Linked DNA regions of Homo sapiens. The protein of the gene in region 1 purifies or fractionates together with the protein of each later gene. This does not show direct contact. Each region holds a gene or a part of one and is shown in the gene's direction. Other genes may lie near its edges. The genes, in order: SPATS2L, SGO2 and SULF2.

What was found.
Region 2: the proteins of SPATS2L (region 1) and SGO2 purify together in Homo sapiens (affinity purification with mass spectrometry; one large-scale study listed by BioGRID and IntAct). This does not show direct contact.
Region 3: the proteins of SPATS2L (region 1) and SULF2 purify together in Homo sapiens (co-immunoprecipitation; one large-scale study listed by IntAct). This does not show direct contact.

The regions. Positions count from the first base shown.
Region 1 is NC_000002.12:200,435,676-200,439,329, forward strand, and holds part of SPATS2L (SPATS2-like protein), read left to right. Parts: intron 1-3,446; coding exon 3,447-3,653; intron 3,654-3,654.
Region 2 is NC_000002.12:200,529,175-200,532,828, forward strand, and holds part of SGO2 (shugoshin 2), read left to right. Parts: intron 1-2,601; exon of another isoform or gene 2,602-2,692; coding exon of another isoform or gene 2,693-2,727; intron 2,728-3,128; coding exon of another isoform or gene 3,129-3,181; intron 3,182-3,654. UniProt on the Homo sapiens protein: Cooperates with PPP2CA to protect centromeric cohesin from separase-mediated cleavage in oocytes specifically during meiosis I. Has a crucial role in protecting REC8 at centromeres from cleavage by separase.
Region 3 is NC_000020.11:47,778,864-47,782,517, reverse strand, and holds part of SULF2 (extracellular sulfatase Sulf-2 isoform a precursor), read left to right. Parts: intron 1-2,863; exon of another isoform or gene 2,864-3,654. UniProt on the Homo sapiens protein: Exhibits arylsulfatase activity and highly specific endoglucosamine-6-sulfatase activity. It can remove sulfate from the C-6 position of glucosamine within specific subregions of intact heparin.

The DNA.
Region 1 (3,654 bases):
GGATATTTTAAGGCTTCACTAAAACAAATACCCTTTTCTAGAATATAAATTAGTAGTGATTACACACTGAAGATCAAAACTCTCACACTCCTTGTGTATCCTATTAGTGTTATCCAACAGAAATTTAACACATAGTATGTATATAATTTTATATTTTCTGGTAGCCACATTTAAAAAGTGTAAACAGGTGAATTAAATTGGGTAATATATTTTATTTAACTTAATGTATCAAAAATATCATTTCAACATGTAGTCAATCTTTTTTAAATTATTAAAGTAATATTTTAAATTTTTTATTTTGTACTAAACCTTCACATTTCAGCATATACATTACACTTATAGCACATCTCAATTTGGACAAGCCACATTTCCAGTGTTCAACAGCCACATGTGGCCAGTGGCTACCTTACTGGACACTGGAGGCTTATGTGTGAATCAGCCCCCATTGAGCTACAACCTGTTGAAGTTTACAAGTGGACTCCCGATAAATGGAGAGCTGATGGTATTTCTGGACTATAATGTTAGAGGAAAGTCACTGGATACAGTGACTTTCTGTTATAGCTCTATAACGCTCCACCAGTTTTCATCTGCAAGAGTCCCAGAGTTTTACTATATTTGAAGACAGATCTATACTAAAGTAACACTGATACATTCATTATTTATTATGTATCTGCAAGATATCAAACACATGCAGTAATGATGAACAAGACATACATGCATGTCAGACATACATGCATATATGCAAATATGTACAAGTGGTCTTGAAGATTTTAATGTTCAGTGATTTCACTAGTAATGAGACAGCTTTTGAGGACCTAAAAAAAATCTCTACTCACATTTCTCAATTGATATCTGATGGGGAATGTTGAAACGAACCAGTAGACCATATATCAGTTCTCTGATACACAAATAAAATGTTTTCAGCTCTAGGTTAATGAGCCTATGCTCATTTGCATGCTTGGCTTCCATTTAAAATTCTTTTGCATTTCATTACAATAATTTTTTCCCTCTGCTCTAAGGTCATTGTTTCCATTAAGTTATAGTATAAATCCCCTTATTTTCAAGAATATGATCTCTTTACGACACTATACACGAAGATCTGTGTTTTAAATTTGATATGGTTTGAATGTTTGTCCCCTCCAGATCTCATGTTGAAATGTGATTCCCAATGTCAAAGGTAAGGCCCAGTGGGAGGTGATTGGATCATGGGGGCAGATCCCTCATGAATGGTTTAACACCATCCCCTTGGTGATAAGCGAGTTCTTGCTCAGTTACTTCATGTGAGATCTGCTTGTTTAAAAGTATGTGGCACCTCTCCCCTCACTCTCTTGCTCCCATTCTCACCATGTGGTATGCTGGCTCCCAGTCATCTTCTGCCATGATTGTAAGCTTCCTGAGGCCCTCACCAGAAGCTGAGCAGATGTTGGCATCATGCTTCTTGTACAGCGTACAGAACCATGAACCAAATAAACTTCTTTTCTTTAAAAATTACCCAGGCTCAAGTATTCCCTTACAGCAATGCAAAAACAGCCTAACCCAGAATTCTCAATTTATAGTATCTCATCCAGACTGCCTCTCAACTGGAATTTAGAGAGGTAGTGACTTGGAACCAGTTTGGACGTGTCATTGTTTTAACACAAATGTTTATAGACTCAACATAAAATTAGTTTTTTAATCTTTTACAGTAGGGTTTCTCTGGGTGGCTGGTACCACCCATCTCCACTCCAACAGAATCACCTGGGGAGGAGAAGCCTGGGCCCACAGCTGAACTGGAATCTCTAGAAATGGTGTTCGGGAAGTTGCATGTGTAATAAGTACCAAGGGAAACTCATTTCACACTGAAGTTTGACAGCCAGTGCCTTATAGTGAAGTTCTACCTTAATATCACTAAGGATAAAATTGCATACTACCATTTGAATCTGTTTTATTACTGGAGGAAATGCTGTTTTCAGTACTTATGTACTTTGTTTACTACCTTTGCTGAACATTTTGTGTACTGTGAGTAAATTTTTAAGGGTATTCATTCAGCTCATAGAAAGTATGTTGTGCTTTCTTGATATGTAAGTTATGAATGATGGATTCAACTGAAGTCTAATTATATTGATCATGAATGGACTAATGTCTAAAATCAAATTGACTAGGACCTAGATCATATTCCTTTGTATTTTTTCAAGTGTAGTCTCTGACTGTGTCAGGTAAGATATTCATTGTTTTTTATTTTTTTCTATGAAATTGTTTCAAATGTACTTTAATTAGATCATAATTCTACAGAAAGCCATCGAGCCAGACACAAGTACTAGGGCTTCAAAACAGAATTGAACTCAGTGTTTGCCCTTGGGAAGATTGCAGCCTCTGCAAGGCAGGGGTGAGGGGCAGATATGGAAGCCTTGTGTTAAAATATAAAACCGTGGTACCATGGTTTTAAGTAAAGCAAGGTACCATGGGAGTAGAGAGAAGCAGGGCAAGGGTGACTATCTGAAAAGGCTGGGTTTTACAAAGATGACTGTGTTCTGTTTGAGTGCAAGCCAGTCAGCCAGACAAGTGAAGACATTCCCACAAGGTCACCCAGGACATAAGGAATACCAGAACTTGGTTCTCCTAGATCAAAACTGCACTCATCAAGCTTTCTACAAGAACCTGGCCTTCAAGAGCACACTGGCTTCCCTTTTCTCACACCCAAAACTTTCTCTGGTAGTAAGATGTTAAGAGTGATACATTTCCGTTTCAGGCCACTAACATGCTATTTAATTCATTCCAGCAATAACTAAATGGGAACCTACCTTTAAAAGATGCCAAAAGCAACATCCTGCTAATTGATTGCCACATCTATTAAATCTCCAGAGAGAATCTGACTCCCTAGATTTTAAATATAGTTGAGATATTATGATGATGTTTTCTGATTTAAGCCCTCCATAAATTAGATGCAATGATTATAGTATCTGTTGTCACTTCATTTTTGCTCTATCTCCAGTCACGCTTCTGCCTTCATTAATTCGGAATGAAATATCACAAGACATTAATGTAGCACTTGGAGATAGGAGGGCTACATTTTTATAGCCTCAATATGAAATTGTACTTAAAAGACTCATAAGCCTTTACTGGAATAGCAGGGGGGAAAAGGCACTGCTCATCTTCTATAAGCCTCTTAATAACCTTCCTGGATAGTTATGGATGAGGAAACTAGGGCTCAGAGATGCCCAGGGTCACTCTGCAAGTAATTACCAGAGCCAAAACATGCCCAGGTCTTTCTACTCAAAATACAAGGCTCTTCTAGTACACCCTCTAATCTTCTGGGGATTCTTTTAAAACAGTTTCTTGACTGTTTGCAATGAAAGGCATTATTGCCAATATGTAAACAAAAACAAAAATCTTGGCATCCTCCATCACTTTATCGTCAGTGTTTTTAGTTTATCACTTCACAGTCATTATTTGGTGTTTTCTTACAGAAGGCAACAGACTACTGCAACAGAAACTATCCTTAGATGGGAACCCCAAACCTATACATGGAACAACAGAGAGGTCAGATGGCCTACAGTGGTCAGCTGAGCAGCCTTGTAACCCAAGCAAGCCTAAGGCAAAAACATCTCCTGTTAAGTCCAATACCCCTGCAGCTCATCTTGAAATAAAGCCAGATGAGTTGGCAAAGAAAAGAGG
Region 2 (3,654 bases), 94 kb from region 1:
CAGCATCAAGGGACCACTTGTATTTTCTTAAATGTTTCATTTTCATGCATTTACACATGCCATTCTTTCTTCCTGGAATGCCCTTCCTAATCTTGATGCCTGACAAGTTTTTAGTTTCTAAGACTTACTTATTCATTCAACAAATATTTACTGTGTTGATATCATTTGTAAGGCGCTATTCCATGCGCTGGGGAATATATCAGTGAATAAAACATAAAAATCCATGACCTCCTAGAATTTAAATTCTAGTTGGGGAAGACAGACAATAAATAAATCTATAGTATGTTAGATAGTGATAGATGTTGAGGGAAGGAGCTACAGTTTTGTTTCGTTTTGTTTTGTTTTGTTTTTTGTTTTTTTGTTTTTGAGACGGAGTCTCACTCTGTCACCCAGGCTGGAGTGCCATGGTTTGATCTCACTCAGCTCACTGCAGCCTCCACCTCCTGGGTTCAAGCATTTCTCCTGCCTCAGCCTCCTGAGTACCTGGGATTACGGGCACCTGCCACCACACCTAACTAATTTTTTTGTATTTTTAGTAGAGACGGGTTTCACCATGTTGGCTGGGCTGGTCTCGAACTCCTGACCTCAGGTGATCCACCCACCTCAGCCTCCCAAAGTGCTGGGATTGCTGGCATGAGCCACTGCACCCAGCCTGGAGCTACAGTTTTAAGTGACCTCACTGAGAGGGTGACATTTGAAGAGACTTGATGGAGGAGAGTGAATGGGCCATTTGTATATCTGGAGGAAGATGTTTCTAAACAGCATTTATTCTAAATGCAGAATAACCAGTATAAAGGACCTGAGGCTGAAGAATGCCTGGCATATGCTCCAAACAGCTAGATTTTGGTGGCCAGTATGGCCTGAGGGGAATGCGATAGAGGGAGAGGAGGAGGAGTTCAAATTAGAGAAGTGTAGAGCTAGTGGAGAGACCGTACTAAGGACTTTGGAGAGAAGTGGGAACCATGGGAGAGTTTTAGATTGTATAGATTAGTTCACTGTAGGGACAGCAGCAGTGGAAATAGGGAGTCAAAGCCTGTTGCAGAAACTCAAGTGAGACATGGTAGTGCCTCTGACTAGGTTGGCAGCAATGGACATACTGAGAATTGGTCAGATTCTAAATATATTGTGAAGGTAAGTTGAGATATGAGAGAGATTTTTGGCCTGAGCAACTGGAAGGATGAAATTACCATGAACTGAAATAGAAAATGCTCTGAGTGAAGCAGGTTTGGACAAGTTAAATTTGATGCATCTACTTTAGTTATTAAAGTGGAATTGTGGAGTAGACAGCTGGATACATGAATCCAGTGTTCAGGAAAGAGATCCAAACTGAGGACATAAATTATGGAGTTCTTGGCATCTGGCTGGTATTTTAAGTGATGAGACTGTATGAAATCACCAAAGAAGGGAGTGTAGATAAAGAGAGGAAGTTCAAGGAAAGACCCCGTTAGAGGTTGGAAGAACCTGTAAAAGAGACAGAGGAGGAACAGGTAGGTAGGTAGGTAGGAAAAAAACATAGGCGTTTGATGTTCTGGAAGCCAAGGAAATACAATTTTTGAGGAAGGAGAAATTAACCACATTAAAATGCTGCTGATAGATCAAGTTAGATGAAGACTGAGAATTGACTATTAGATTTAGCAGCACAGAAGTCATCAGAGATCTTGGAAAAAAGCAGTTTTGGTGGAATAGTCTAAGTGAAAGCCTGATTGAAGTAGGTTTATGAGAAAGTTGGAAACTGAGTATAGACAATGTTTTCAAGGAGATTTGCTGTAAAGATCTGCAGAGAATTGGAGTGGTAGTCTGAGTATGAAGTGGGAACAAAAGAGGGTTCTTTAAGGTGAGGAAATAGCAGTGTGTTTGTATATTGATGAGAATGGTCCAGTGGAAAAGGAAAAAAATTGATGATATCGGGAAAGAATTGTTGGAGTGATGTCTTTAAGGAGGCAGGAAGGCATGGGATCCAGTGCATGGATCCGTATCTAGGAACACAGTTGATCCCTAACAACAGGAGAGAAAACAGATACACAGATACAGGTATGGTATGTAGGTAATTGCAATGGAAGTTTTGAGAAAGTTCTCCACAGGTTGCTTCAGTGTTCTGAGAGAGAATAACAATGAGTGAGGATATGAAATAATTCATAAAGAGGAGTGACCCAGGGATTGATAACAGCAGTGAAGGGAAAGGGGTAATAGAGTCTAGTGACAGTATATTCAAGGATGGGAATTTTTAGGGAGGAGGGAAGATGAATGGTCTGCAGACATGAATGTGTTGTAGCCTCTAGAAGGGGTGTGGGAGGGAAAACAGCACCTGCCTGACAGGACTGCAGGAGAATCTGTGTCCTCAGGGGAGAGGGTGGTTCAAGAAGATGAAGGGAACATTCAGAGAAGAGATTGAGGCTGTAGAGGTTTGGTTGATGATGGAATGTGAGTTCTAGAGGACCTCATGAGTCTGGCAAGGGTAAGATAGGCAGGCTGTATTCATTTCCTTTGGCTGCTGTAACAAATTATCATAAATGAGGTGCTTAAAACAACTGAAATGTATTTCCCCACAGTTCTGGAGGCCAGAAGTCTAAATTCAGTTATCACTGGTTTTCCCACCTCAAGGTGTATTCCCAGCTGCACTCTCTCTGGAGGCTCTTCAGGAGAATCTGTTCCTTGCTTTGTCAATTCCTGATGGCTGCTGGCAGTCCTTGGCATGTGGCTGCATCACTCCTGTCTCTGCTGTCTCTTGTAAGGACTCTTGTGATAGTATTTAGTCCTGCCTGGATAATCCAGGATAATCTCCCCATTACAAGATCCTCAATTTATTCATATCTTCAAAGGCCCTTTTTCCACATGAGGTTTAGAATTAAAGGGATCTAATAACTTTGGGGGACCATTTTCCAGCTTACCACAGGACCAGATGAGGAATGTGTAGCACTTAGGGGATTCGAGTGAGGGGAATGAACGTGACCCAGGAGTTGAGGGATTCTTGCCATGATTGATAAAGTGAGCTGAGTCCTGGATTGACATAGTGAGCTGAGTCCTGTGGACTCAAGGCAGGTAGTGGTGGGGAGGCTGAGTATTGAGGGTTAGGCAGGTGCAGGTGACAGAGTTTTTTGTTTTTTTTTTTGTTTTTTTTTTTTTTTCAGATCTCTTCAGATGGAGGCAAGGAGGCTTGGGAAGGAAATGGAGGCATGGGGAGGTTGGTCTTACATGGCTCAACATCAACTGCTGCTTCTCAGTGAAGCTATTTCTGATCCTTTTCCTCTGCCCAGTCACAGTTAATCGCTTCTCCTCTGCATTGTGTATTGTAGCCATTACTCTTGTAATACTATAATGTAATGATTTCTTTATCTTCCTGTTTCCATAATAGGCCATAAATCTAATAGACAAATTTAAGATTTCCTATTTCTCCAACCCCCTTCCCCACCTTGGATTGGGTATATCTCTTCTGTACTTCCTTTAAACTCTGTGTATATCTCTAAGGTTATACTTCTTACATTGTATGAAAACACTGTCTGTACCCGCATTGTACCATGCATTCCATGAGGGCAGAGACCATATCCTGTCATCTTTCCCCTGCACCTGGTACATAGATGATTAATGTAGGCTTAAATGAAAAAAATAATCATTTACCTTTTTGGATTATACCTTAAGCCACTTTTGATTACATTC
Region 3 (3,654 bases), on another chromosome or scaffold:
TGTGGAAGATGGGGGCCTCTCTCAATGCTGATCTGCAGGTGAGGGGGCCCTCCCTGAAACCTGCTTTCTCTGGGCCTCCTTGGAATGGGCCTTGGTGGAGATCTACAGACAGCCCTGGCCCAGCCGGATTGAAGGCACTGTCTAATTGGGAGGGCATTAAGATCGTTATAATTAATTGGCATCCCGATAAATGGCATGGTTGCCTAATTGGGGTGGTTGCTAGGGAACGAGGCCTCACTTGGAGCCTAAAGGGGAAGAAGCGCTGGGCTGGCCACAGTTGGGTGTCAGGGTACAGATCCAGCAGTGAATGGACCGGAAGGGAGAGCAGTCCATCCGTATCTGCTGGTGTTTACTGAGCAGCTGCTGTGTGCAAGTTGCAAATGGAGTATCAGTTAGGGGTACTTGCCTAGAAGAACTGTAAAGTAATCAGGTTCCTTTCTCTTGCAAGCAACGGAAAAAGAGAAGAAAAAAACTCAAGCCAGCTTAAGGAGAAAAGAAGTGGACTTACTGGTTTTCATAACCAAAAGTCTTAAGGTGACTAACTCTAGCTTCAGACACAGCTGGACCCACAGCTCAGATTTTGTAATGAGAATCCATTCCTATCCACCGCTCCTCTGCCTTCCATGAGGCTGATGTCTCTCCAGCTCTGGGGCGGGCAGTCCCTGGCAGCTGTGGGCACCGTGGCTAGGAGAGCCAGACTGCCTGGCTCCCTGCCCAGCAGTGGGATCTGGGGCATGCTACTTAACCTTTCTGTGCCTTGATGTTCACATCCAACAAATGATGATGATCATAGCACCTGTCTCCTGCTTGTGGTAAGCATGAAATGAGATGATCAATGTCAAGTGCTTAGCAGGGCGTCTGACCCAGGTGAGCCTTCAGTAGGCATTGACTGTTACCATAACTTAGGTGTCAGGACAGATGTCATGGAGCAGAGGGGTCTCATCCCCTCTGGTTTAAGCCCAAAAGGAAAGAACAAGCCTCTGATCTGGCAATGCACACCTGAGCCCCATGGTTCCCTCTGATTGGACTGTTTTTTGTCCAAACCAGTCACTGGCTAAGGAAATGAGTTGCCAACAATTGGCTTAAGCCAGGCTCACAGGCCTCTCCCTGGAGCTGGATGGAGGCTGACTGCTGAGACCCCAAAGCCTGGAATAAAACAGCACGGGGAGTCCCCAGTGAAAGGGAAGCCCGGTTGCTGGAGAGGCAGATGGCCAGTGCCTGCGATGATGGGCCACTAATGTGAGCAATGCTGGCCAGATGGACCCATCTTCATTTTGGCCAAGGTGGAGACTGGGGAAACACGCTGCCTGGGCAATGCCTCTCCCTTCCACCAGGGCCAGGAGGCATCAAAGGCCTGACTTTTCTGCCTTACTGTCTGAAGGATGGGGCCTGGCCTTGATCCTGTGCTTTCGGGGGGCCAGGGGCAGTGTTTGTCTAACCTCCCACCATGAGAATCATCTGGCTGTATTTGTTTAAAAAGGCAAAGACCAGATCCTGTTGAATCAAACTTCTAGGGAGGGTCCTGGATGCTGGGGGGCATGACCAATATGTCATGTGTATATTCTATATCAGCAGGAGGGTTTGGCGAAGAGAGCTCTGGAGCGTGGGCCTCTTTGTCTTCCTGCCTAATGCAGGGGCTGTCAGAAGGCGGGGAAAATGCTCTAGGCCTGGCGTGCTGGCTCATGCCTATAATCCCAGCACTTTGAGAGGCCGAGGTGGGAGGATCCCTTGAGGTCAGGAGTTTGAGACCAGCCTGGCCAACATGGCAAAACCCTCTCTCTACTAAAAATACAAAAATTAGCCAGGTGTGATGGTGCTTGCCTGTAATTCCAGCTACACAGGAGGCTGAGGCACCAGAATCGCTTGAACCCAGGAGTCGGAGGTTGCAGTGAGCTGAGATCGCACTACTGCACTCCAGCCTGGGCAACAAAGTGAGACTCAGTCTCAAAAAAAAATTTAAAAGAAAAATGACTGCATGATGTGATGGGGTGGGAGGCAACTTTAGGCAGGCTGTCAGGGAGGCCTCTGTGAGGATGTGACCTTTGAACTGTGACCTAGATTTTAGGAAGGAGTCCGCCTTGGAAAGATCTGGGGGAAGAGCATGCCAGGTAGAAGGAACAGCTAGTGCAAAGGCCCAGAGGCGGTGGGAGGGGCCTGTCCAAGACACCTGCCCCAAACACAAATAGAAGTCAAGTGGGGTAGGCCAGGCGTGGTGGCTCACGCCTGAAATCTCAGCACTTTGGGAGGCTGAGGCAGTTAGATCACTGGAGGTCAGGAGTTCAAGACCAGCCTGACCAACACGGTGAAACCTCATCTCTGCTAAAAATACAAACATTAGCCAGGTGTGGTGGCACGTGCCTGTAGTCCCAGCTATTTGGGAGGCTGAGACAGGAGAATCACTTGAACCCGGGAGGCAGGGGTTGCTGTGAGCCGGGATCACACTTCTGCATTCCAGCCTGGGCAACAGAGTCAGACTCTGTCTCAAAAAAAAAAAAAAAAAAAGTCAACTAGGGTAGAGGGTCAGGAGTAAGTGGGGGAGGGCACGTCAGAGATGAGAAATACAGGCCATGCTAAGAAATTTTAGACTTTATTTTAAATAAAATGGATAACTGTCTGGACGCGGTGGCTTATGCCTGTAATCGCAACACTTTGGGAGGCCAAGGCGGGTGGATCACCTGAGGTCAGGAGTTCAAGACTAGCCTGGCCAACATGGTGAAACCCCATCTCTACTAAAAATACAAAAATTAGCCAGGCACGGTGGCGCACACCTGTAATCCCAGTTACTCGGGAGGCTGCAGCAGGAGAATCGTTTGAACCCAGGAGGTGGAGGTTGCAGTGAGCTGAGATTGTGCCATTGCACTCTAGCCTGAGTGACAGAGCAAGACTCCATCTCAAAAATAAATTAAAAAATAAAATGGAGAACCATTGGAGGGTTTTAAGTCAGAGAATGATATGATTTGTGTTTCAAGAAGATCCTGCTGGCTCCTGTGAGAGGCGTGCTGTGCAGATGGAAGTGGTATCACCGGGACTGTTAGGCAACAGAGAGGGCCCGAGAGTGGCTTGGACCGTGGTGGTATCAATGGAGATGGAGTGAAATGGGGATTGGAGATGTATTTTGGAGGTAGGGCCCACAGGACTTCCTAGTGGATTGGATTACAGAGTGAGGGAAAGGGCTTTGATTCTCAACCGAGGGTGATTTTGACACCCAGAAAACATTTTAACACTATCCGGAGACAGTATAGGTTGTCCCAACTGGGGAAGGGTTGCTACTGGCATCTAGAGGGTAGAGGCCAGGGATGCTGCTTAACCTGCAATGTACGGGATGACCCCACAGTGAAAAATGATTCAGCCCAAATATTCATGATGTATCCTGCCAAGGAGTCAAAGGTGACTAGGCAGCCTGGTGCGTGGTGATTGCTAAATAGGGAAGATAGGAGAGAAGGTTTTGGGGAGGAGGAGTGATCTGGAATTCCGACGTGGAAATGTTGGGTTTGAGATGAACCCCACCTGGATGTCTGAAAGCTCAGTGGGTGGTGAACGTGGATGTCTGCAGCCGGTCGGGGCTGGCAACCTAAGTTTGGGAGTTATCGGCATATTGATGTTATTTTAAGCTGTGGGACTGGACACAATTATCCAGAGAGAATGTGTTTTGTT